7 linked regions of the Homo sapiens genome follow. The protein of the gene in region 6 purifies or fractionates together with the protein of the main gene of each other region. This does not show direct contact. Each region holds a gene or a part of one and is shown on either strand. Other genes may lie near its edges. The genes, in order: LSM11, NOP58, HACD3, ATG2B, SRPRB, ARHGAP36 and MAGED4B.

Region 1 (4,134 bases), on a different chromosome or scaffold from region 6:
ATGGTTTTTGTTTTTTTTTTTTTTTTGAGATGGAGTCTCCCTCTGTCACCCCAGCTGGAGTGCAGTGGCGCGATCTCAGCTCACTGCAACCTCCGCCCCTCCAGGTTTAAGCAATTCTCTGCCTCAGCCTCCAGCGTAGCTGGGATTACAGGCGCGTGCCACCACGCCCGGCTAATTTTTTGTATTTTTAGTAGAGACGGGGTTTCACCATCTTGGCCAGGCTGGTCTTGAACTCCTGACCTCGTGATCCACCCGCCTCGGCCTCCCAAAGTGCTGGGATTACAGGCGTGAGCCACCGCGCCCGGCCTGCTTGATGGTTTTGTCTTCGCTGTAGTATGCATTCATCCCAAGGTATATTTCAGAGTTGTATATTAATTTTCATCTTGCTCTCTAAGGTACTCTCCAGTATTCTCTTGGACTTCCTAAGTCTTAAGGAAACTGAAATGTACACAAAGCAACTAGTACAGAGAATACTAGTTGATGGCAGTTTGAGAATGTGGTGACGGGCAAGTGATGTGTGGCCTGTAGGTGAGTGGAAACATTTTGGCTCTGCTGGATGAGAAGGTTATATCTGGGCCTTCCGCGAAGAGTAGACTGTCATTTTAAAATCAACCAAAAAATATTTTGCCGAACTGAGACTATAAAGTAGCAAGTGGTATGATCAGGTCTTGGGAATTTTCCATAGTTTCCTCCAAGAGCTGGATCTTCGTTTCTTCCAATTGGTTAGCAATGCTTAGAAAGACAGTGATATAATGAATTTTCTTTGATACTAAGCACAAATTTGTTTATGCACAGGGTATAGGAAATGGAGGACAGACACCCAGTATTGGCTGACATGCATCTATTATGAGCTCTGTAGGCAGTATCTCTCCATCCTGAGGTCAGTTCTATAAGGTAGGTGCTATTTATATCATATTTCAGACGAGAAACACGCTAAATACTTTGAGCCCAGATAGGCTATTCTTCCCACCCTATCAGTAGTACTCAGCATGGAAGCAAACTGAGACATTCATTGCCTTCCTCCAGACGCTTCCTGCCAGCTCAAGCTAGGATGCGATCCCGAGCTCATTCCCGGGGAACCCAGAGTATTAACAAACACCCTAAGTGATAATGATACAGACGGGGAAACTGCGCTGGAGCAGGTCAAGCAGCAGTCGACAGCGTTAACCTGTCAGCTATGGGAGGAGGCGGTGCGAGGCGCGGGCTGGTCGGAGCCGCGTACCACGCCCCCCGGCCCGGGTGGAACGAGGACAGGTGCTGCCCTCCCGCGGCCGCTTCGGCGCAGTGCAACCCCGCGCCGCGGCTGCGCAGTGCCGCCCTCTGGCGGCTTCGTTCCTTCTTCCCATCGGCCTCGGCTTGCGGGCCTTTCAAACATGGAGGAGCGGGAGCGGGGGGCGAGGTCGGCTGGCGCCGGGAGCCCCGCGCGCCCGCCCAGCCCGCGGCTGGATGTCAGCTCTGACAGCTTCGACCCGCTGCTGGCCCTGTACGCGCCCCGCCTGCCTCCCATTCCCTACCCCAATGCCCCCTGCTTCAACAACGTGGCGGAGTACGAGAGCTTCCTCAGGACCGGAGTCCGGGGCGGCGGGCGCGGGCGCGGGCGGGCTCGGGGCGCGGCCGCGGGCTCTGGGGTTCCCGCCGCACCCGGGCCCTCGGGCAGGACTCGTCGCCGCCCGGACGCGCCCGCCCCGGACCCCGAGCGCATCCAGCGCCTCCGCCGTCTCATGGTGGCCAAAGAGGAAGGGGACGGGGCCGCAGGAGCGGGCCGGAGGGGTCCGGGTCGGAGCAGGAAGGCGCCACGCAACGTGCTCACGCGAATGCCCTGTGAGTCCGCGGGCCGGGCGGGAAGCGGGGCAGCCGCCGTCCGGAAGCTGGCTGCCGAGGGGGCGTCTGCGGGGCGGCGGTGGCCGGGCGCGGGTCTGCACGTATTGCGGGAGCGCCTTGGTGAAAATTTGCGGGGATCATCAGTGACTATGGGGTGGATCTGCTTGAGTAATGTGGGTAATGAGGGCGTGGGGAGGGTCACCCTGAGTAAGAAAAGGGGCTGTAGGAGCAACAGAGGGAGAGTGGTAAGGCTGTAGTGGTCATAAGAAGCCGTGGGAAAGGTCTTCAGCGGTAATCGGGGCCCATGGAAGGGTCACAGAGGTGATGAGCCTGCCGAGAGGGTCTACAGGATTGATGGAGGACCTGGAGAGGTGGCGGGGCTACAGAGTTTGGGGGACATCATAGGGACGTCTACAGAGGTGATGAGAGGTCTTAGAGACCACAGTGAGAGGTAAGGTGGGGCGGAAAACGGGAGACGTGGGGGAGCGCACAGCCAATATTAGGGGAAGGAGAGTATTTGGTCAGTGGGATTTGAGGATGATCGGATGGAGTGTGGGGAGATTTGTTCAGATAGCACAGGCGCATAATCCCATAACCCCTGTACATTGACAGCTCCTTCTCGAGTGCGATAAGCAGAAGGGCTGCAGAGTCTTGATACACATATGTTCACATTACTAAGTCACAAGTGCTGAAATGCAGCAGGCACAGAATGCCACTAAAACACAGACGCTGTTTTACAGCCACTCTGCCTGGCTGGGTGCAGGACTGTGTCTGTCAGGCTCATATTACCATATGTGCAGGTTATTTTAAGTTCTAAAGGTGTAAATGGCACAAGGGAATTTCTTGGAGCCTCCTCATAGATCCTTAGAGTAAAGCTGTAAACAGCAGAGGCTCTAATGTGTGAGTTAGGTCTTGTATAAATGGAATAAAAACAGCCTAAGGTTATCTCTTTTGTCATCTGGCAAGCAGTTCTGACATCTGCCCTGTGAACACAATGACCTACTTAGCCATTCAAAGCATCTGTATCCTGATAATTAAATTGTTACCTTATTAAGTCACTGTCTTTTGGATGGAGAGGTGTGCCAAGCAAGGGACTGTTTTGCTTCATTCCTAGAAATTTGTTTATTAAGAGAGAACATCCTGAAACGCTCTGTGCTGTTCCGTGTGCCTTCGTTGGATGTCTTACCATGCCACAGCATCCCTGCCCAAGCTAGGATTTACCCCGGCCTGCTTGCCTGGCTGTAACACAAAGACAGTATGCTTGTTCCCAAAATGAGAGCAGTTTGGGGGACCTTAATTTGCCTATGCAATTTGCCACCATTAGGTAGTTGAAATGCACTCCAAGTCTCATTGCAACATTTATTTCTATTTTACCAGTTATTGCTTTGCTACCAAGATTGTCAAGGGAAAGGAATATTCCTGTGTATTGCTATGTGGTGGGTGGTTTTAGCTTTCCCTATAGAGCACTTTACTGTAATGGTATGACAGTGTGTGAAGACCAGCTTTGTCAACTTCTTATGATTAAGTATATATCCCTGGAATCAAGATCTCAGAGAATATGCCCTACATACTGAAAATTTTCACCATGGCACTGCAGACAGTTGAGTGTACATGAGAGAAAGGCATTGACGTCGCACAGAGTTGATGACCTTCAGAAAGCAAGAAAACAACAGAAACATGGGTGAGGATTGGATTCATTCAAGAAAGAGTTCCTACTTGAGGGTGAAGGGTGGGAGGAGGGTGAGAATCACAAAACTACCTATTGGGTACTGTGATCACTACCTGGGTGACAAAATAATTTGTGCACCAAACCCCAGTGACACACGATTTACACCTGCAACAAACCTTTCGTGTACCTCCTGATCCAAAAACAAAAGTTGGAAGGGGGGAAAAAAAAGAACTAGGTATGTTTTATATGTATGCCACAGTTTTAATTTAAAAAAATATATGCCTACTCTAAACTCTGATTGGATACAGTTGCTCAGGAAAATCAAAATATAGATACCAGTAAGATAATACTATTTGTGGACATATACAAATGCTTTCTGGAAAAAAATGCCTATGCATTTGAGAATGCATAATCCTTTGCAAAATATTCACATAAAATGTAAGTTCCATCAGGCTGTAACAGCAAGAAGAAGCTTTGTTAGGTCATATCATCAGTGAAACATAATGAAGAATACATGAGGAGCTACATTTTGTCGCTGACTTTAAAATGATGTATTTCATCAATTCAGATCCAAGTTACCCATCCAAATTCACAGAGAGGACAGTGTGGAATGTTTATGAAAAAACAAGGAGTGCAAAATTAAG
Region 2 (3,500 bases), on a different chromosome or scaffold from region 6:
GCGAGGCTGAGGCAGGTGAATCATGAGGTCAGGAGATCGAGACCATCCTGGTTAACACAGTGAAACCCCGTCTCTACTAAAAATACAAAAAAATTAGCCAGGCATGGTGGCGGGCGCCTGTAGTCCCAGCTACTCGGGAGGCTGAGGCAGGAGAATGGCGTGAACCCGGGAGGTGGAGCTTGCAGTGAGTGGAGATTGCTCCACTGCACTCCAGCCTGGGTGACAGAGTAAGACTCCGTCTCAAAACAAAACAAAAAAGAAACACTACAATTTAAAAAGGTCTATTTTAAAATTAAAAGGTGGGCATAGATTGAAAGGGTTGAAGCTGCTAAGCTAGAGTTAAGAGCAAAAATGCACAAAGGTTAGGGAGAGCTTTGTAATAAGCATTTCTAAGAGAGAACAAATAGTGAAACTGAGTCAAAAATCCAAACCTGGGTAAATCTGCATTGTGTATAGCAGTGGTTCCCTATCAAGGGCAATCAGATGTCCCCCCAGTAGGCATTTGTCTATGTCCATAGACATTTTTGGTTGTCACAATTGGAGGTGGGTTGGGGTCTGCCATGAGTATCTGGTGGATAAAAGTTAGGGATACTGCTAAAGGTCCTATAATGCACAGGGCAGCCTGTACAACAAGGAATTAGGCCCAAAATATTAATTGTGCTGAGATGAAAAAACATTTTTATACAGACAATATTGTTACTCCACAGCTTTCTGTTTTCAGATGTTAAGAGTCCTGCAAAGTTCCTAACTGGTAGTATAAAGCTTAATATGTGCTATTAAAAATTGCATGAACCAATATGGCTTTTTTTTTTTTTTTTTTTTTGAGGCGGAGTCTTGCTTTGTTGCCCAGGCTGGAGTACAGTGGCACGTGATCTCGGCTCACTGCAACCTCTGCCTCCCCGGTTCAAGCGATTCTCCTGCCTCAGCCTCCAGAGTAGCTGAGATTCAGGCGTGCCCCACCATGCCTGGCTAATTTTTATATTTTTAGTAGAGACAGGGTTTCGCCATGTTGGCCAGGTTGGTCTCGAACTCCTAACAGGTGATCTGCCCACCTCGGCCTCCCAAAGTGCTAGGATTACAAGCGTGAGCCACCACGCCCAGTCCAATATGACTTTTGTATTACACAGCTTATCCTATTTGTCATTCATACATAAACTCATTCATGTTACAGAAATAAAGGTCGTAGCAGCACATATAGTTTTTTTTTTTAATGTGTATTTTCTGTTCTCGTATGGTGCATTTCTACTTAGCTGATTTTTCTTCTTAGAAAAACCAATTACAGCTCTGACTACAGGCTGATTTGAGTAAAAACAAAAACAAAAAAAAACTTTAAGGTGTTAATTTAAATGCTTTTCCTAGATGCTATCTTGCTAATTTATTTTCCCCTTTCTTCCCAGCCTGTCTCGATATAGATTGAAGTTTAGCGCTGATAAAGTAGACACAATGATTGTTCAGGCAATTTGTAAGTATAGTACATGCAAAGTCCGATTTGTTGCTCTGTCCTTCATGCGTTTTCATACTGTTGAAACTATCTTTTATGATTCTGTCTGTTGAGAAAGAGAAAGGAGGCCAGGTGTGGTGGCTCAAGCCTTTAATCCCAGCACTTGGGAGGCTGAGGCAGGCGGATCACCTGAGGTCAGGAGTTCAAGACCAGCTTGGCCAACATGACAAAACTCTGTCTTTACTAAAAATACAAAAAAAATTAAATGTGCATGGTGGCGTGTACCTATAATCCCAGCTACTCAGGAGGCTGAGGCAGGATAATTGCTTGAACCCAGGAGGCGGAGGTTGACTATTTGGAGATTATATGAATCACAGAATTAACATTACGTTAATTAATTCATTTGTATTTTTCCATGAAAATGTTAAAAACATAAGTGCAATCTTTGTAGTTGTGTATTCTGCTGTGTCATTAAATGGTTTTTAGAAAGCTCAAAAGCTGCCAGGCACAGTGGCTCATGCCTGTAATCCCAGCACTTTGAGAGGCTGAGGCGGGAGGATCACCTGAGGTCGGGAATTTGAGACCAGCCTGACCAACATGGAGAAATCCCGTCTCTACTAAAAATACAAAATTAACCAGGCATGGTGGTGCATGCCTGTAATCTCAGCTACTCGGGAGGCTGAGGCAGGAGAATCACTTGAACCCTGGAGGCAGAGGTTGTAGTGAGTTGATCGTGCCATTGCACTCCAGCCTGGGCAACAAGAGCAAATCTCCATCTCACTAAAAAAAAAAAAAAAAAATCAAAATCTTAATCGTTTTTCTATTTTAGAAATGCATTCGGCCGTGGCTCACGCCTGTAATCCCAACACTTTGGGAGGCAGAGGCTGGTGGATCACCTGAGGTCAGGAGTTCGAGATCAGGCCAACATGGTGAAACCCGATCTTTAGTAAAAAATAAAAAAATTATCTGAGCATGATGGTAGGCGCCTGTAATCTCAGCTATTCAGGAGGCTGAGGCAGGAGAATCACTTGAACCTGAGAGGCGGAGGTTGCAGTGGGCCGAGATCGCACCATTTCACTCTAGCTTGGACAACATGAGCAACACTCCGTCTCAAAAAAAAAAACAAAGTATTCGGCTGGGCGCAGTGGCTCACACCTGTAATCCTAGCACATTGGGAGGCCAAGGCGGGTGAATTGCCTGAGCTCGGGAGTTTGAGAGCAGCCTGGCTAACATGGCGAAACCCTGTCTTTACTAAAAATACAAAAAAGTAGCCAGTCGAGGTGGCGTGTGCCTATAGTCCCAGCCACTTAGGAGGCTGAGGAAGGAGAATCACTTGAACCCAGGAAGCAGAGGTTGCAGTGAGCTGAGATCGCACCACTGCACTCCATCCTGGGTGATGGAGTTAGACTCTGTCTCCAAAAAAAGAAAAAAAAAAGCGCTCAACCAGCGATTCCTTTCCTAGATTTATACCCAAAAGAATTAAAAACAGAACTGAGTTGCTTGTACACCTATGTTCATAACAGTGTTATTTACAAAACCAAACAGTGGAAACAACCCAGATACCTTTTAACAGATGAATGGATAAACTGCATTGTGGATGCAGCTTGAATGTCCCTAATCTGAAATTCAAAATGCTCTGAAATCTAAAACTTTTTGTGGTACCACACAAATCCACAAGTGGAAAACTCCACACCTGACCACACGTCAAAACTTTGTTTTATGCACAAAATTATTTAAAATATTGTGTAAAATTACCTTCAAGGTTTTGTATATAAGGTATATGTGAAATGTAGATGCATTTCCTATTTAGACTTCGAGTTCCATCCTCAGCCTCATACGTGTTTGCAAATACTCTGAAATACTTCTGGTCCCAAGCATTTTGGGTAACGTACACCCAGCCACTTCACACAGTGGAATGTTAGTCAGCCTTAAAAAGAAATGAAATTCTGATACATATTTCAACATGATAAACCTTGAAAATATGCTAAGTGAAATAGTCACAAAATACTGCATGATTCTGCTTATATGAAGTACCTAAAATAGGTGAACTCAGAGACAG
Region 3 (3,500 bases), on a different chromosome or scaffold from region 6:
TAAGTCAGCTAGGGATTTTCCTCTCCATTTTATAGAATAGAAGAAGCCCACTACCATGACTTCCTCATCTGTCTCTCTGTTGACAGGTTGGAGGCTGATCTCTTAGAAAAGTAGGGGAAAAAAAGGAGAGGCATGAGCTTTCTGTACAAAGGGAGGAGAAAGCCTTTCCAGCACACCCAGAACTGAAACTTTAGAGTACTAGGACTGGAAGTTCCTGTCATTAAATGTGACTGTTTCATTTGCTTCTAACAAGTTCTTGTTTCTGTTTTCAGCTGTCTCAGTGATTCAGTCCATTCCAATATTCAATGAGACCGGACGATTCAGTTTCACATTGCCATATCCAGTGAAAATCAAAGTTAGATTTTCCTTTTTTCTTCAGATTTATCTTATAATGATATTTTTAGGTAAGTATTGATTCTTTAATACAGACTTTTTCTTGTCACTTCTTAGACAGTAGAATTAAATCATTCAGAAATGTAAAAGTCCATATGAGAATTCTTTTGGGACAGAATTAGAGAATGATTACTTTGCAAAAACAGACCCACTAGGGGAATATGCTATGGTAAGGAAATATTTCTTTTCTAAATCTCCAGCAGTTAAATTATGTTCTTTAAGTGCTCTTGGTGATTGGGAATATACCATAAGATATTTCTTGTTTAAAACAATGTAAGGGGACAGGCATGGTGGCTCACGCTTGTAATCCCAGCACTTTGGGAGGCTGAGGTGGGCACATCACAAGGTCAGGAGTTCGAGACCAGCCTGATCAACGTGGTGAAACCCTGTCTCTACTAAAAATACAAAAATTAGTTGGGTGTGGTGGCGGGTGCCTGTAATCTCAGCTACTCAGGAGGCTGAGGCAGGAGAATCGCTTGAACCCGGGAGGCAGAGGTTGCAGTGACCTGAGATTGCAGCATTGCACTCCACCCTGGGCGACAGAGCGGGACTTTGTCTCAAAAAAAAAAAAAAAATAAATAAATAAATAAAAATTAAAAAAAAAAAAGTAAGGAGCCTTTTAAAATAGACTAAGAAGCTCCCACTTTTACTAATTTCAGTAGCATATTCCTCATCCAGAGTTTATAGAGGTGATAAGACAACCAGCAGCAAGGAAGGAAGAAGGGAATAAAGGCCTCTGAGCAGCCAAGGGTTGTCATAAAGCCTTCCACCTCACAATAGGAAAGTCCCCTGCTCCTCATGGAAAACCTGCTGACCTATTAATTTATATAAAATCATAAATTCCTGCCTTTATAAACTAACAGAAGGGAAAAAGAAAGAAACCTAAATTATTACAAATATGACAAATTTAAAAGGCTTCCTAACTATAAGGATTTTTTTTTGTTGTTGTTGTTGTTAAATTCTTATTAGAGGCCAGGTATGGTGGTTCATGCCTGTAATCCCAGCACTTTGGGAGGCTGAGGTGGGTAGATCACTTGAGGACAGAAGTTTGAGACCAACCTGGCCAACATGGCAAAACCCTGTCTCTACTAAAAGTACAAAAATTGGCTGGGCTTGGTGGCGCATGCCTGTAATTCCAGCTACTTGGGAGGCTGAGGCAGGAGAATCGCTTGAACCCAGGAGGCAGAGGTTACAATGAACCGAGATTGTGCCACTGCACTCCAGCCTGTGTGACAGAGCAAGACTCTGTCTCAAAAAAAAAAAAAATTTATTAGTAATCAGTATTTGGTAATTTCTAAATGCAACTATACATGATTCTACCCATATTATCTATACTATACTCTATACATAGATGTGAAAATACATACATTCTTATGTGTAGGTTAAATACAATTTGAGAAAAATAATTTTTTCCTTTTAAGAGCAAACTAATACGTATCGATTTTAGTATGACAACTAAGAACATAAAAACAGAATGAAAGGAATTTTGTCATTAAATATATTTGAGAGGAGAAAACACTGATTATCATACATAGAACTTTACATGTTTAAGGATAAGACAAGCTCCTAACTATAAGGACTCTTTAAAGTTCTGATACATTTTAGTGGTAATTTATATATTTCTCCTTGCTTTATTTCACAAAAGACTTAAGGTGGCCCTAAATAAATATAACTGTCCAGTCTCCTAGCCACAGAAGGATGCAACAATAGTATATTAGTTCTCTATTGCTGTGTAACAAATGACCCCCAAAACTTAGCAGCTGAAAACAATAAATAGTTATTATCTCACATAGTTCCTGAAGGTCAGGAAGCAGCCTGGCTGGGTGGTACTGGCTCAGGGTCTCATGAGGTTTCAGTTAGGCTGTCAGCTGGGGCTGCAGTTTCTGTAGACTTGACTGGGGCTGGAGGATCTGCTCCAAGCTCACTCTTGTGGCTGTTGACAGGAAGCTTCAGTTTCTTGCCATAGCCCGTCTCCATATGGCTACTCATGGCATGGCTTCCCCCAAAGCAATTGGTTAGAGAGAGAGAGCCCGAAGCCACAGTGCCTAATCTCAGAAGTGACAAATCATCACACAGACCAACCCAGTATAACATGGGAGGGGACTACACAAAGGTATGAAATAACAGGAGATAGAGGTTGTTGGGATCATTGTCACGGCTTGCTACCCCAGACAGTGAGAGGAAGACCACGCAAGGTAAGCCCAGGAAGCCAGAAAGCCCAGTGGTCTTGGTCATTTAGTGTTGCGGGAGGAGAGACTTATACCATAGTATTAGGAGCCCCTTAGTGTGCCAGTGCCTGGCAGATGTACAGTTAAATAGTATACATTGTAGGCCCACGTCATTTGCAAAAGGTTAAAATTTCTTTCTTTTTTTCTGTTTCAGCAAAGGGTATAATCCATTTCAGAAATATTGCCAACCAAAAATATTAAAATGTTTTGCCCTTGAAGAGAGGAACCCTCAGTTCAGAAAATGTACTAATTAAAGACAGCTTTTTACCTTTATTACTGTATAAATTCAGTATAACTAGGCCCCATGAAATGGGCATAAGATAAAGAGGAATAAATATTGGAAAGACATTTAAAATATTTTAGTGAACAGGGTAGAGGGGTAGAAATATTTTAAAGTGCATTGACTTAGTATCTTTTTTTGTGTTGTTTATATTGTACACTCTAATTTGCAAGATTTTATGTTCATATCTACTTTGCTTATAGTGAATATGTAGTTGCTCTTTTCTTATTCTTTAGAATGAAATAAATCCTAATTTCACATTTATAATTTTGAAGCAGTGTAAACAGCCAGTTAACATTTGTATATAGGTCAAAGGACTTTTTAGTTTTTTTTTTTTTTTTTGAGACAGAGTCTTGCTCTGTCACCCAGGCTGGAGTGCAGTGGCACGATCTTGGCTCACTGCAACCTCCACCTCCTGGGTTGAAGCAATTCTCTTGCCTCAGCCTCCGGAGTAGCTGGGATTACAGGCACCTGCCACCATGCCTGGCTGATTTTTGTATTTTCAGTAGAGATGGGGCGTCACAATGTTGGCCAGGCTGGTCTCAAACTCCTGACCTCAGGTGATCCACCCATCTTGGCCTCCCGAAGTGCTGAGATTA
Region 4 (3,500 bases), on a different chromosome or scaffold from region 6:
TCTTTTTTTGCATAGATTTACATTAAATAAGATTCATGATAATCTGTCTCGCTACATAAAAAAAGTATTTAAATAAATCCATTTTTAATATACTTACTCTATTTCTGACCAAAATTAGGTACACGGAAAAATGTTAAACTCAATTTTTTTAATCTCTTAAAAAATAGAACTTAAAATTTTCATTTATTTTAATAACTCACTTGCTCTCCATCAGAATCAGACTTCACTGCAGTTATGGTTAACTCCAAAAGCCCCATATCCATCACACGAACATAATCTAAAATTTTTAAAATTAAGAAAATCTCTTCAGTACAGCTTTCAAAAATGTGTATCCAACCAACACCCAATACAACTAGCATTCCTTTAAAATTCATTGCAGAGAGCACTACAAATAATTATAATGCAATGAAAATAGTTTCATCCCATAGAAGTCCTAAAATTCACTTTATTTTTTGTTAGAAACAAAAATTATCTTAAATAAAAATTTGTAGTATATATAGTAATTTGATGTACTTAACTAGCATTATAAGAACATTACAATTTCAAACTGAAAAACCAGTATCTGAAAAATGAAGCTGTGAATATATACCACATGATCACTATATACTTAAAGACCCTTTAATCTTTAAGGATCTTTAATAAGATTCTTAGTTCACTAGCATTATCCCAGAGTTAAAATGCTTTAAAATTATTTACGCACAAAAATAAAGCAGAATTTATCTACTCCATTTGTTTTTTAACTCTTACCTCTACTCAGATTTATAGTGACAGTATTGCATTTGTCAGATAGATGTAAAGCAGCTTCATCCAAGATTATTCTGAGGCAAGAAAGATAAAACCAACATCTGAAAAACTAAGCTTTGAGTATCATACCCCATAATCACTATATGCTTAATTGCATCATTCTTTCTGGTATGAACATTGTTGAAATCATAAGCAGTTTCTAACTTATAACTGTCATCTAACATTTTTTAAAAACTGTTTATGAATGCTAGGAATATTTAAATGGTGTAAAGAATTAGATTAAATCATCTACTCAAATTAATTCTAAATTTTTGGCAGTTTTTAAAGAGATGCCCAAATTCACAAGGTTTAAACTATAGTATAAAGATAGAGTGGGCCAGATGTAGTGGCTCACACCTGTAATCCCAGCCGTTTGGGAGGACAAGGCAGGAGGACCACCTGAGGCCAGGAGTTCTCAACTAGCCTGGGCAACACAGCAAGACCCCTTCTCTACAAAAACAAAACTTTTTTTTTAATCAGCCAGGGATAGAGGCACACGTCTATAGTCCTAGCTACTCAGTAGGGTGAGGGCAAAAGATCACTTGGGCTCAGGAGTTGAAAGCTGTAATAAGCTGTGATCATGCCACTGCATTCCAGCCTGGGCCACACAGAGCAAGACCCTGTCTCTAAAAAATAAAAAAATTAAATAAAAAGTATAAAGTGTATCAGGTAGCATGGGAAGTTTACCATATGTTTTAAAATGCAAACTTTTTAAAGAATCTCCAGAATTAATTTCTTCCCTAAAAATGAAATGCAATAATAAATGGGTAGATGAAACATGTCACCTGAGAAAAATTGGGTAATTTGGGTAAAAGGTTATAACTATTAGTAAAAGAACGTTTAACAAAAAATTGAGACTTTAATAAAATGGTTTAGGTAAATATCAATTGGTATGTTTCGAACAGCTTTGTTTAGTATACAATGAAGTTTACACAGGTACCTGAGAGTAGAGGAAGATTTATCCAATGCAACGCTACTGGAAACACTGAATGTTTCCACGGTAAGAAGAGATCGGATTGGCAAATAAAGGGGTCTAATGCCAAAGAGAAACAAAAGAACATCAGTTTGATACGGCTCCAGAAACTCTATTAAAAACAACAACAACAACAACAATTTGAACCTTAACTCTACTGAATTATGTATTTTTTTCAAAATTTAGTAGCATTTTAAATAAAACTTTATTTTGTTCCATTTGTGAACTTACCTATAATCAAGTGCACAGCTCCAAAGATGAACATGAAAAGTTGTAAATGAAGTTGGAGGATTATATCCCAAAACAGGTTCATCAGCAATATTCAAGAAGTATAAAATCTATAATCACAAAAAATTAAAACGCCCTGCTTTAGAAGAAAAAAAAGGTTTCATATAATATCCTTAATACCAATGTAAACCAGAATATCTCACAGAAAAAATCATTTAATTGGAAAATCATAACGGTAAAAGGAAAAAAATCATCATTTTGAAGGAATTAGTTTCAAAAAGTACTTGCATCAGAAAAGAAGGTAATGGATACTGATGGATGTGTTCGTTTGACTACAATAGGCATTTTACTATGCATATCAAGACATGTTATTCACCTTATATATAATAAAAATAAATTTTTTAAAAGTATTTGCAAAATTAGAATTTGAAATGCAGAAGCCTATCCAACAACTCCAATGCTACAGAAATCTTAGAAAATCACACCTTATGAAATTAATAACAATGTATGCATAATATAATTTCATATTTTTTGGCTTGGAACAATTCTCAGAAAAAATAAATTTTGCTAAAGACTGCTTAAAACTATCAATCTGGCTTCTTATATAACTCATTGTGTGCAGGGGCGATTGGTTTTTCATATAAGTCATTGTTGAAGGAAGCTCTTTTTCCTTAATGTATACCTAGCTCAGTCTAAAAACCAGTCCCTCTCACCAACATCTATTCTTTCATATTTCTAATCCAAACAAATAAGGAGGTTCTGCTAAATGTCTCCCTTCCAGCTGGTTATTCACCCTAACCACTTCTCTACTCCTACCAGATAGAAAGTCAGACAGATATTCTCATGTTTCCTAAATGCTTTCATGAGAAAAGAATTTTGAAAACACTCAAGTTTTTAAATAATGTATTATTTTCCCAGCACAATTAAGAAGTTCTCCTTTATAAGAAACATGAGAAGCAATCATAGTGCACTAGTTTTCATTCTCACATAAGGAAAAGCTAACTTCTTACTCAAAGTCTCCTCTGAAAAATAACCAATTGTATTTTATTACCATAAAAAGTTGTTGAACTGGAAATTAATGAGAGAAATCCTGATAAAATGCTTTAAAGCAACATCATATTATTGGCCTAGGGAATTATATGGAAATATTGCACTTAAAGAACTTCTGATTATAAAAGCAATTCAACACACCATTCACTGCTCCTCTACGCCAGACATTCTACAAGTCCTGGGATACAGAGTCCCTTCCCTTCCTTTAATGACATATAAGATAACTCTGTCATTGAGAGGTTTTGAGGACCACACTTTAAGGTAAAAAACCAATTACATTCTGAGGTGATAATACTGTTTTGTTTTGTTTTGTTTTGTTTTGTTTTGTTTTGTTTTGTTTTTTGAGACAGAGCTTCGCTCTTGTCGCCAGACTGGAGTGCAGTGGCACGATCTCAGCTCACTGCAACCTCCGCCTCCCGGGTTCAAGCGATTCTCCTGCCTCAGCCTCTCCAGTAGCTGGGATTAC
Region 5 (3,500 bases), on a different chromosome or scaffold from region 6:
TTGTCACAGATAAGAAAATTCCTTGGACAATTGAGACAAATCTAGAGCTGGTAAATTTTGCCATAATTGGGTTTTTATTTCCAATTAAATGTTTTTTCTTTTTCTATTGCCAGTTCTAAATATTTTATGATTTGCAGTATAACTACTCTGTGATTCATGTATTTTGGGTAAATAAAACATGCAAAATATGAAGATAAAACTTAGTTCAAATAAATTATAATCATGATAACATGCAAGTTGAAAAGACATTTACTATATTGGTATGTGACTTTTTTTTAATCCTACTTTCTGGCTTCGCCAAGTTTCCCTAGTGGCTATTTTCCCTCTCCTGATTTGAACATATGCTGTTGCTGTTCTTATCATGGTTCCCCTCCCCCATCTTTTAAACATTGCCTATTTGATTGTCTGAATCCAATAATATCAGTTTCCTTTTCCTGAACCTTAAACACTTTAACTTTCATCTTCCTCACATCTTCCTTTTATTTATGCTCCTTTTTAACCCCCATCCATACTTTTTTTTCCTCTTACATTCAGTGATGAGAATTACCAGGATGCTTATGGTCTTTTGCTCCCCATTGCTTCTTGAATTTTACTTCTTCCCTTTAGATTCAGTTTTCCCTCACTGAGTATATCTTTTAGAAGTGTTTCCAGAGAGGGTGATGAGTAGTCAAATGTTTTCAGTCTTTGTTCATTTGTAACTCTATTTGGCCAGCATTTTGGAATGTCTCTTTTAGCTGAGTGCAGAGTCCTGGGTGGCAGCCGCATCACTCCTGACCTCATCCATCTGTTGCAGATGAGAATGTTTTTGCCAGTCAGTCTAATTGTCATTTCACTGTAGTAAGTCTGCCTGATTTGACCTTCTATCCAGGGATAGATTTTCTTCTGTTCAAGGATGGATTTAGCTTTATCATTCTTGGAATTCAGTTGTGCTATTCCAAACCAAAGATTCTCCTCAGTTTTGGAAAATTCTCACCATCGTTTCTCCAGGTAGTGCTGTTTCCCCATGATCATTTCTCACACTCTGGAATTCTTATGAATGTTATTGAACCTTATTATTTTTGCCTTTCTTGTTTCCTCTCTATCGTATCTTCCAGATCTTTCTACTTCGCATATTGTAAGATTCCCTCAGATTTGTTTTCTAGTTTATTACATTATTTTCAGCTGAGCATGATCTCTGCTTAACTTTTCCATTGATTTATTAATATCATTTACTATATTTGTCTAAAATACTTACCTTTTCAAACCAGCCTGTTTCTTTTTATACTATTCTATTTTTTATTGTAGTTTGTAGTATTTTCTTAAATAATTTTAAACATTTACTTTATAGATAGCTTTATTATCTTAGTTTTGGGGTGCTGATTATTCTCTTTGGGGTACCAGTTATTCTCCCTCATAATTATTTTATTCTGTGCCTTGTAATTTTTGCTCCAGAACCTTTCTTCAAGAGTGACACATCATTGATATTGTGGTGGTTCTTTAATCCCGTAGGATATGAAAGCCTTGCTCCATAAGCGGTTCATAGTTCCTTCTGTTGGGGCCATAGGGCTTCAATAAGTCTGGCCCAATTTTTATGTAAGCCTTTCCCCTTGGGGGTCTTACACCTGGAGAGAGTATAAATTCATACCCTATATCTGTGTGAGGCAGTGGAGGCCCGCTGTTTCTAAGGGAACTTTTTTTGCAAGCCCCGACCTCCCTGAGACTATTTTAAGTTGTAGGCTTTGTGCAGGGCATTCAGTTCTAGCTCCCCAGCTGCATGTTGGCCATTGCATGTCTCTTATCTCCACCTGGGCATTCAAACCCTTGTCCATAAGGCTTGTATTTTTTTTTTTTTTTTTGAGACGGAGTCTCGCTCTGTTGCCCAGGCTGGAGTGCAGTGGCGCGATCTTGGCTCGCTGCAAGCTCTGCCTCCCAGGTTTACGCCATTCTCCTGCCTCAGTCCCCTGAGTAGCTGGGACAACAGGCACCCGCCATCACACCAAGCTAATTTTTTGTATTTTTAGGAGAGACAGGGTTTCGCCGTGTTAGCCAGGATGGTCTCGATCTCCTGACCTCGTGATCCGCCCGCCTCGGCTTCCCAAAGTGCTGGGATTACAGGCGTGAGCCACCGCGCCTGGCCGGTTTTTTTGTTTTTTTGTTTTCTTTGAGATGGAGTTTCGCTTTGTCACCCAGGCTGGAGTGCAGTGGCATGATCTCAGTTCACTGCAACCTTCGCCTTCTGGGTTCAAGTAACTCTTCTGCCTCAGACTCTCAAGTAGCTGGGATTACAGGCTCCCGCCACCATATCTGGCTAATTGTTATATTTTTAGTAGAGATTGGGTTTCATCATGTTGCCCAGACTTGTCTCGAACTCCTGACCTCAAGTGATCTGCCTGTCTCGGCCCCCCAAAGTGCTGGGATTACAGGCGTGAGCCACCGCACCCGGCCCCCTAAGACCTGTTGTCTGCAGTTTCCCTGGGCTGCTGCACTTTAGCTTTGATATCTCTTTGTTTCTGTCACATGAGGAGTCCCACTATGGCTGCCTTAGTTCAGGCCCTACCTGGTCACTGTGCTTCTAGTTCAAGCGCCCTCTAAGATTGCTTTGTCTTCCATTTAGGCACCAATATTCTTCATAAGACAGAAAAGCATGAACTCCACAGGTCATTGTGTCACGCCTCACTGTCTGACTTGGTTCTCCTTCATTTCCCCATCTCCCTGTGTACCAGCTTACCTTGACTTCCCCAGGGAATGTGTTTCACGTATTTGTGGCTTGAACATACTGTAGGCTGAGTATCCCTTATCCAAAATGCTTGGAACCAGAAGTGTTTTGGATTTTAGACTTTGGATTTTTGGATTGGGGATACTCAACCTGTACTTTCCAGACAGCCTGTGCCCCAATTTTTGGTCTAGCTAAGATTCAACTCAACTGTTACATTCTCCTTAAAGTTGCCTTTGACCTGGTCTCATTTAAATGATCTTTCTCTTTATTCCTGTTACACATGTGCATAGTTTTGTCTTGGCATTTATCATATGGTTCTCTATATGATGATTTGTCTTGGAGGACAGGCATCATTTCTTACTGTCTTTTTTCAGCTTCAGTCATTGATACACAGTAGCACTCAATAGTTCCTTGTTAAATGAGGATTTATGTTATATGATAACATATGCACAGACCTGCATGTGTGTCTGCTGAGTGTTAATCACCAAGATTGACTTTGAAGAAGTTCAGGATAGTTTTTCAAGATAATGATGTCCTGTTACACGTTCACATGCCAGTTTTTCTTGTTTTCTCCCTCCAGGGCTATTGTGTTTGTTGTGGATAGTGCAGCATTCCAGCGAGAGGTGAAAGATGTGGCTGAGTTTCTGTATCAAGTCCTCATTGACAGTATGGGTCTGAAGAATACACCATCATTCTTAATAGCCTGCAATAAGCAAGGTGCCATCATGTTTTCTTGCAATAATAATTGAGTTTTTTGGGGATTGCTGCTACTAAGAATTATTTCCATTATTTACAGTTGTTATTA
Region 6 (3,500 bases):
CGGTTTATTCTAAGGCCTTTGATTTCCTTCGGAATTGTAAGCATCTAGGCTGACTCATCTCTCAAAGGCTTTTCTCTCTCTCTCCTTTTGGGGCTGTTGTTGATTGGGGATTTTACTGTTTGTTCTTACCTTATATTTGGGGGAGAGAAGGGACTGATTTTCATCTTATTTTTGGGTGAAAAAACCAGCTCTGCTCTTTGGATGATCAGATCTGGTAAGCTTCGATAAGAAGAAATAGCTGAAACTCCAAAACAGGTACAAAAGATATCTGGATTGGGGAAAGGGGAGAGGGGAGTAATGTTAGAGAAATTAAGCCAGAGCTAGGCTGTGTGTCTCAGGATGAGACCCTAGACTAATAGGCTCTGGACCTGCTATTTTGAATGGGGAATTGCTAGAGGCTTAGTCTGGAACTGTGGTTAAATGCATGTGCCTTTGGTTAAAATGGTCACTTTGCAAGTTGCAGTTTGGTGGTTGGGGTTAGGTGTTCACTTTGGGTCCAGGGGATGGAGCTTTGCAGTTGAAGGTTTAATATCTATGCTAGGTGTTTTCCTCTTGGTTTAGTTCAAAAGCCACAGGAAAACTCCTCATCTTTTCTCTTACTGCACCTATTTCTGACATCTGTGATCCTGGCTACTAAGGGAAGTAGGCAAAAGAGTTTTGGAGACAAAATTCAAGTATGGTTTATTTGTTTGTTTGTTTTTTGTTTTTTGTTTTTTGTTTTTTTTTTTTTGGACAGAAGGTAGCTCATCTATTTAGATTATTGCATGATAAACCGTTACTTAACTTTTCTCTGCCAAAGCTGCATTGCCTGATCTTTGAAATTTAAGCTCCCCACCCCCCAAATCATATATAGAATGTTATTGTAGATTCCATGGGAAAGAGACATTCAGTAAAGTTGTATGTAACTACTTCCTTTCTTGGCAAAAGGTTTAGTTCCCCATCTCCTGAATTATCTTCTCTATCAGGAACCAGCCATATTTACCCAAACCATGAACTTGGGAGCTATCCTAAATTGTTTTCTTTCCATTGCAATTAAAGATGTTCCCTAAGCCCTGTCAGTTCCATCCATGAGATTCGTCCCCTACTCCAGCCCTAGTGACACTGACTTGTGTCAATATCCCTTGCCTCTTGGCTCATCTACCTACTTCCAGCTCTCTACCCAAAACAGGCTTTTTCATGGCTTTCTGTGATTTTTCCAAGGTGCAACCCTGAATCTTTCACTCCCTGCCTAAAGCCCTATTGCCTTCAGGAAAAAGTCCGACTCTTTAAGCTGGCTTATAGGGCCATCCATGATCTCATCCCTGCCCATCCAGATTTTTCTCCTTCCAATCCCTTTATACAGCTTCAAGAATATGACAACCTCTCTCCCATCTCTTTTCCTTTGCACAAGCTGTTCTCTCTGGATGCTCCCCTCCTCTGTCTCCAGGCAGATTTAGCTGTTTTCTCCTTTCTGCTCTCACAATACTTTGTTTATATCTTGGAGGTCTAACATCACAAGGTTTTGTAAATTGTTGCTAACTTGTGTATCTCCTTCACTGCACTGTTAAATCTTTAAAAAAAAAAAAAAAGAAATAGTATTACCTTGCTCATCCTTTCAATCTTTAGCGCCTGGCACAAAGTGGGCAATTAATACAGGTTTTTGTTTTAATGAATGAATGAATGAGTGAACAAATGAGTAATAGAGAATGTGCGGGAAAGGATGCTGTGTGAGGTGTAGGGGCATACCCCATTGGGGATGCTTTGTAGTCTGGAAGTAGTATAAGATAGTGGGCATCATGGAGAAGGCACATATAAAATAGGTTTTACCATTACACTAAGACAAACTCCACTTTGATACCAATTCTGTTTAAGGAGTCTCACTAGAAATGGTCTGGAAATGATGTTTGTTGGTTTTGGTACAAATGATTTTTTTATGAAAAAGTAATATAATGAAGTTGTACAATGTTTGGTAAATAGAGAAAAGCAACAGGCAAACAAAATCTCACCAGTTAATGCAAATGCTGTTAGCATTTGGGTGCATTTCCTTCAGTCTTTTATTTTTATGCATGTTTTTCTTCACATAGTTGCAATCAAAATTAATACAATTCTGTGTTTTGTATTTGTTGTTAAAAAACTCTTTGTAAATATAACTTTAATGATTGCATAATTTTTCCATACTGTGGCCATTACAAAATTTATATAACTAATATCATTGCTGGGCTAGCTTTTTTTCCCTTTTTTTGTTACTATTATGGTTTATGTGGATATGCTTTTCCCTGTCTGTAGGAAGATTTTATTAGGATAGATTCCTAGAAGGGGAGTTACTAGGTCAAAGGGCCTGGGGACGATTTTTGGCTCTAGACCCATGTGTCCATTTTGTTTTCTGGACTTGTCTGAATTTGCAGCTCTCCTAACCTAGATGAAAGTCCCCTTTTTATCCAACCTGGACAGCATCGAGTATCGTCATGGAAAGAAAAAAAAAAACCTCTAAAAACGCTCTAATTAATTAACTAATTAATTAATGGAAAATACTATCTTATTTTTGTTTCAAAGTGCTTTTGTTAAAAAATGTTTTTCTCTTTTATTTTTTCTTCTTATTTTCTCTCTTTGTACTTTTTTTTTCTAATTAGGTTTTCTTTTTCCTGGACTATCTGTTAAGGGCTGAATTTTTGAAGTTGGATTTTTTTTTTCTTTTTTAGCAAAAACAACCAGAGGCTGCTCTGCTTGAGGGTGAAGCCGCCTCCCAGTTTTCCCTCCCCCTCTACCCCCACCCCCATAGTTCTCTCCACCAGGTCCAGTGACAATTGGATGATGCAGCCTTGATAATCATCCGATTCCAGAATGGGTGGCTGCATTCCTTTTCTGAAGGCAGCAAGGGCACTGTGCCCCAGAATCATGCCCCCTTTGCTGTTGTTGTCCGCCTTCATTTTTTTAGTGAGTGTCTTGGGAGGAGCCCCAGGACACAACCCCGACCGCAGGACGAAGATGGTATCGATACACAGCCTCTCTGAGCTGGAGCGTCTGAAGCTGCAAGAGACTGCTTACCACGAACTCGTGGCCAGACATTTCCTCTCCGAATTCAAACCTGACAGAGGTAAGCTGTACCCCGGATTGTGGCATCCTCGCCTTCGGGAGAGTGGACCCTCCGGGCAGGACGGGGCGGATTAGGGGTCTGGCAGGGTGGGAGGGGCTCACGCCTGATCTCGGACTTGATCAGTTCTCCTGGCGTCTGGGGAACTGAAGAAGCCGGAGTTGAAGGCTGTTTGTTGAATTGCGGAAGAGGTAAAAATTAGTTGAGTTTGGTCGAAGGCTGGGAGTTGAGGGGGCAGTAAGACAGACGGGCAGATGTCAGGGACAGACAAGTGGACAGAGGGCCGGTGAAGAGACAGCCGCAGCAGGTGCGGTGCGAGAATAGGGCAGAGCGAGACGGAAGCGCAGAGGGACACTCTGGAGAGAACTGGGAGAGATAGAGACAGCGCGGTCGAGAGACAGAGAGTAGAGGGAGATAGCAAGACAGTGCG
Region 7 (2,428 bases), about 79 Mb from region 6:
CATGCCTTGACCTCCCCGCATGTTCCTCCTTCTCCAGGCAAATAAGTTGGTGAAATACCTGATGATTAAGGACTACAAGAAGATCCCCATCAAGCGCGCAGGTAGGCAGCCTGTGCCCCCTTCACCATCCCCTAGTCTGTGGGCATCCCTTTGCTTGCGTGCCACGGCTGGTCCCTCCATAGCCACAGGACGGGGTCCTGGCTGCGTCACCCTCGGCAGAGCTGACCAAGGGGCTACAGCTCTATGACCCCTGCTCAGCCCAGGTGCTTTCTCCAACTCTTCCCCCTCCTGCAGACATGCTGAAGGATGTCATCAGAGAATATGATGAACATTTCCCTGAGATCATTGAACGAGCAACGTACACCCTGGAAAAGGTGGGTGCAGGATGGGAGCAGCTCTGTGGGGGAAGAGCGGGCATGGGGGTGCGGTGACCCTGCAGCCCCTCAAGGCCCAGTCTCTGGAGCCATCTCTCACCTCTCCGACTCTGAGCTTCCACTGCACTGGCAGTTTGACTCGTGCTTCCTGCCCTCGGCTTCTCTCTCTCATGCTCTCTGAGTGTCTCGCCGTCTGGCCAGGTGGGTCTCATCGCCTCTGCCAGCGTCAGCTCCCACAGCGAAGGTCTTCCGTGTGCTGTCTTCTTCTGCCCTCGCTCACGAGTTTGGATTCCTTGCTGAGGAGCAGTTCTAACCCGGAATCACTGTCTGCCGGCAGGATGCCCAGCATGGGGTTTGGATCTCACACTCTGTTTTCTCCCCCACGTAGAAGTTTGGGATCCACCTGAAGGAGATCGACAAGGAAGAACACCTGTATATTCTTGTCTGCACACGGGACTCCTCAGCTCGCCTCCTTGGAAAGTAAGAAAGGGAAAGCGGGTCGTGGCCTTCCTCGGTGGTGTCCCTTCCCTGCCCACACCCCTTCAGTGAAGCAGGAAGACGGGGCTTGAGTGCGGCGCACCGCTCCCACACACAGCGAGGGCTGCCTGGTGACTGCTGGATGAAAGGAATGATAGCCTGGGGTGAGGCCTTGCTGCCATCAGTTCTCCCCAAGCTGCTGCCGGGCTTTATCCCCAAAGCTTCGGAGGAAAGTGCCTCTTCCTCCTGCCTGCCTGGCCTGGGCCTGGCAGAGCTGGCCTAGGGGAGAGCTGCCTCTTCAGTGTAGGTGCTGATGTGGAAGGGGCAGGAAAGGTCTGGAGCCATCTCTGGGCACACGTTTGCCATTTGCAGAGCTTCGGCTCCCTGCCTCGCCCTGTCCTCTGCAGAACCCTGTCAGGGAAGTGTTAGTACCCATGTTTTATAGAGGAGGCGATTAAGTCTCAGGCGGAGGTGCGAATGGTCTGTCAGCAGCTAGTGAACTGTGCCTGTCCTGGGAAGAGTTCCCCTCAAGCTGGGAAACCTGAGAGAGGCTAGTTGGGAGAGCCTGGTGGTGTCTCTCAGGCAAATAGCTGCTAAACAGGATTTCTCTTTCCACACCTTTAGAACCAAGGACACTCCCAGGCTGAGTCTCCTCTTGGTGATTCTGGGCGTCATCTTCATGAATGGCAACCGTGCCAGCGAGGGTGAGTGGCTGGACCTGCAACTGGGGGGCTGCCCATAGTCTCATCTTCTGGGTGCCAAACTCTCGTACCTCCTCTCCCCTCGCAGCTGTCCTCTGGGAGGCACTACGCAAGATGGGACTGCGCCCTGGGTATGATTGGCCTCTCCAGCTCCTCCCCTCGGTGCTATCCTCTGGCCAAAGAGGTCCTGGGATTGCAATAGCCTGGTGGTCTGGCGCAAGGGCGTGGGGTGCCCTGGGCTCGGTAGAGAGCAAAGGATCTCACCAGGGCGGATGGGGAAGCGGTGCTGGACGCTGCTCAGCCCTCTCTCTGCTCTGTGGCCCCAGATGACATCTAAGAGAGACAGTCAGAGTCAGGGATTCCATCAAATCCCTACCTGGGGCGTCCCTGACCAACAGTCCTCTGGCCTCTGCTGCATGCCCAGGCCTCCACAGCGACTCCCCGGGGGCTGGGAAGTCATAGTCATGCTAGGGAGGGCCCCTGCCACCGTCTCTGCTCATGGATTCCTTTCCTTGCCCTCAGGGTGAGGCACCCATTCCTCGGCGATCTGAGGAAGCTCATCACAGATGACTTTGTGAAGCAGAAGTAAGTATCACCTGAGCTAACTGCGGCTCTCACTCGAGCATCCTTTGTGTGCTGGTCTGGCTGAGAAAGCAGTTCCCTATCCCAAATCTTCAACTGGAGGGATGGGTGCCTCTGACCTGGGAGTGAGTGGCAGTGGGGGGTATGCGAGTGTGTGGGGAGCCGAAGGCCAGGGCGGTCTTGGGAAAAGGGAGCTCACGTCACCTGAGAACACGGTGTGGGGTGTGAAAACGGCCGCCATCACCTTGAGCACCTGCCCTGTAGACTGACACAAGAGTTCCCCCTGGTTTACAC

The links.
Region 1: the proteins of ARHGAP36 (region 6) and LSM11 purify together in Homo sapiens (affinity purification with mass spectrometry; one large-scale study listed by BioGRID and IntAct). This does not show direct contact.
Region 2: the proteins of ARHGAP36 (region 6) and NOP58 purify together in Homo sapiens (affinity purification with mass spectrometry; one large-scale study listed by BioGRID and IntAct). This does not show direct contact.
Region 3: the proteins of ARHGAP36 (region 6) and HACD3 purify together in Homo sapiens (affinity purification with mass spectrometry, with the first as the bait; one large-scale study listed by BioGRID). This does not show direct contact.
Region 4: the proteins of ARHGAP36 (region 6) and ATG2B purify together in Homo sapiens (affinity purification with mass spectrometry; 2 studies listed by BioGRID and IntAct, with this or other methods). This does not show direct contact.
Region 5: the proteins of ARHGAP36 (region 6) and SRPRB purify together in Homo sapiens (affinity purification with mass spectrometry; one large-scale study listed by BioGRID and IntAct). This does not show direct contact.
Region 7: the proteins of ARHGAP36 (region 6) and MAGED4B purify together in Homo sapiens (affinity purification with mass spectrometry, with the first as the bait; 2 studies listed by BioGRID). This does not show direct contact.

The regions. Positions count from the first base shown.
Region 1 is NC_000005.10:157,742,378-157,746,511, forward strand, and holds the start of LSM11 (U7 snRNA-associated Sm-like protein LSm11), read left to right. Parts: upstream 1-1,334; 5' UTR 1,335-1,373; coding exon 1,374-1,821; intron 1,822-4,134. UniProt on the Homo sapiens protein: Component of the U7 snRNP complex that is involved in the histone 3'-end pre-mRNA processing. Increases U7 snRNA levels but not histone 3'-end pre-mRNA processing activity, when overexpressed. Required for cell cycle progression from G1 to S phases.
Region 2 is NC_000002.12:202,286,263-202,289,762, forward strand, and holds part of NOP58 (nucleolar protein 58), read left to right. Parts: intron 1-1,397; coding exon 1,398-1,462; intron 1,463-3,500. UniProt on the Homo sapiens protein: Required for the biogenesis of box C/D snoRNAs such as U3, U8 and U14 snoRNAs. Part of the small subunit (SSU) processome, first precursor of the small eukaryotic ribosomal subunit.
Region 3 is NC_000015.10:65,571,963-65,575,462, forward strand, and holds part of HACD3 (very-long-chain (3R)-3-hydroxyacyl-CoA dehydratase 3), read left to right. Parts: intron 1-272; coding exon 273-404; intron 405-3,500. UniProt on the Homo sapiens protein: Catalyzes the third of the four reactions of the long-chain fatty acids elongation cycle. This endoplasmic reticulum-bound enzymatic process, allows the addition of two carbons to the chain of long- and very long-chain fatty acids/VLCFAs per cycle.
Region 4 is NC_000014.9:96,311,342-96,314,841, forward strand, and holds part of ATG2B (autophagy-related protein 2 homolog B), read right to left. Parts: intron 2,095-3,500; coding exon 1,988-2,094; intron 1,817-1,987; coding exon 1,724-1,816; intron 819-1,723; coding exon 748-818; intron 278-747; coding exon 201-277; intron 1-200. UniProt on the Homo sapiens protein: Lipid transfer protein required for both autophagosome formation and regulation of lipid droplet morphology and dispersion.
Region 5 is NC_000003.12:133,812,315-133,815,814, forward strand, and holds part of SRPRB (signal recognition particle receptor subunit beta), read left to right. Parts: intron 1-3,275; coding exon 3,276-3,412; intron 3,413-3,500. UniProt on the Homo sapiens protein: Component of the signal recognition particle (SRP) complex receptor (SR). Ensures, in conjunction with the SRP complex, the correct targeting of the nascent secretory proteins to the endoplasmic reticulum membrane system.
Region 6 is NC_000023.11:131,078,846-131,082,345, forward strand, and holds part of ARHGAP36 (rho GTPase-activating protein 36 isoform 1 precursor), read left to right. Parts: intron 1-2,678; 5' UTR 2,679-2,820; coding exon 2,821-3,073; intron 3,074-3,500. UniProt on the Homo sapiens protein: GTPase activator for the Rho-type GTPases by converting them to an inactive GDP-bound state.
Region 7 is NC_000023.11:52,063,756-52,066,183, reverse strand, and holds part of MAGED4B (melanoma-associated antigen D4), read left to right. Parts: intron 1-37; coding exon 38-101; intron 102-294; coding exon 295-374; intron 375-762; coding exon 763-854; intron 855-1,475; coding exon 1,476-1,555; intron 1,556-1,640; coding exon 1,641-1,683; intron 1,684-2,074; coding exon 2,075-2,137; intron 2,138-2,428. UniProt on the Homo sapiens protein: May enhance ubiquitin ligase activity of RING-type zinc finger-containing E3 ubiquitin-protein ligases. Proposed to act through recruitment and/or stabilization of the Ubl-conjugating enzyme (E2) at the E3:substrate complex.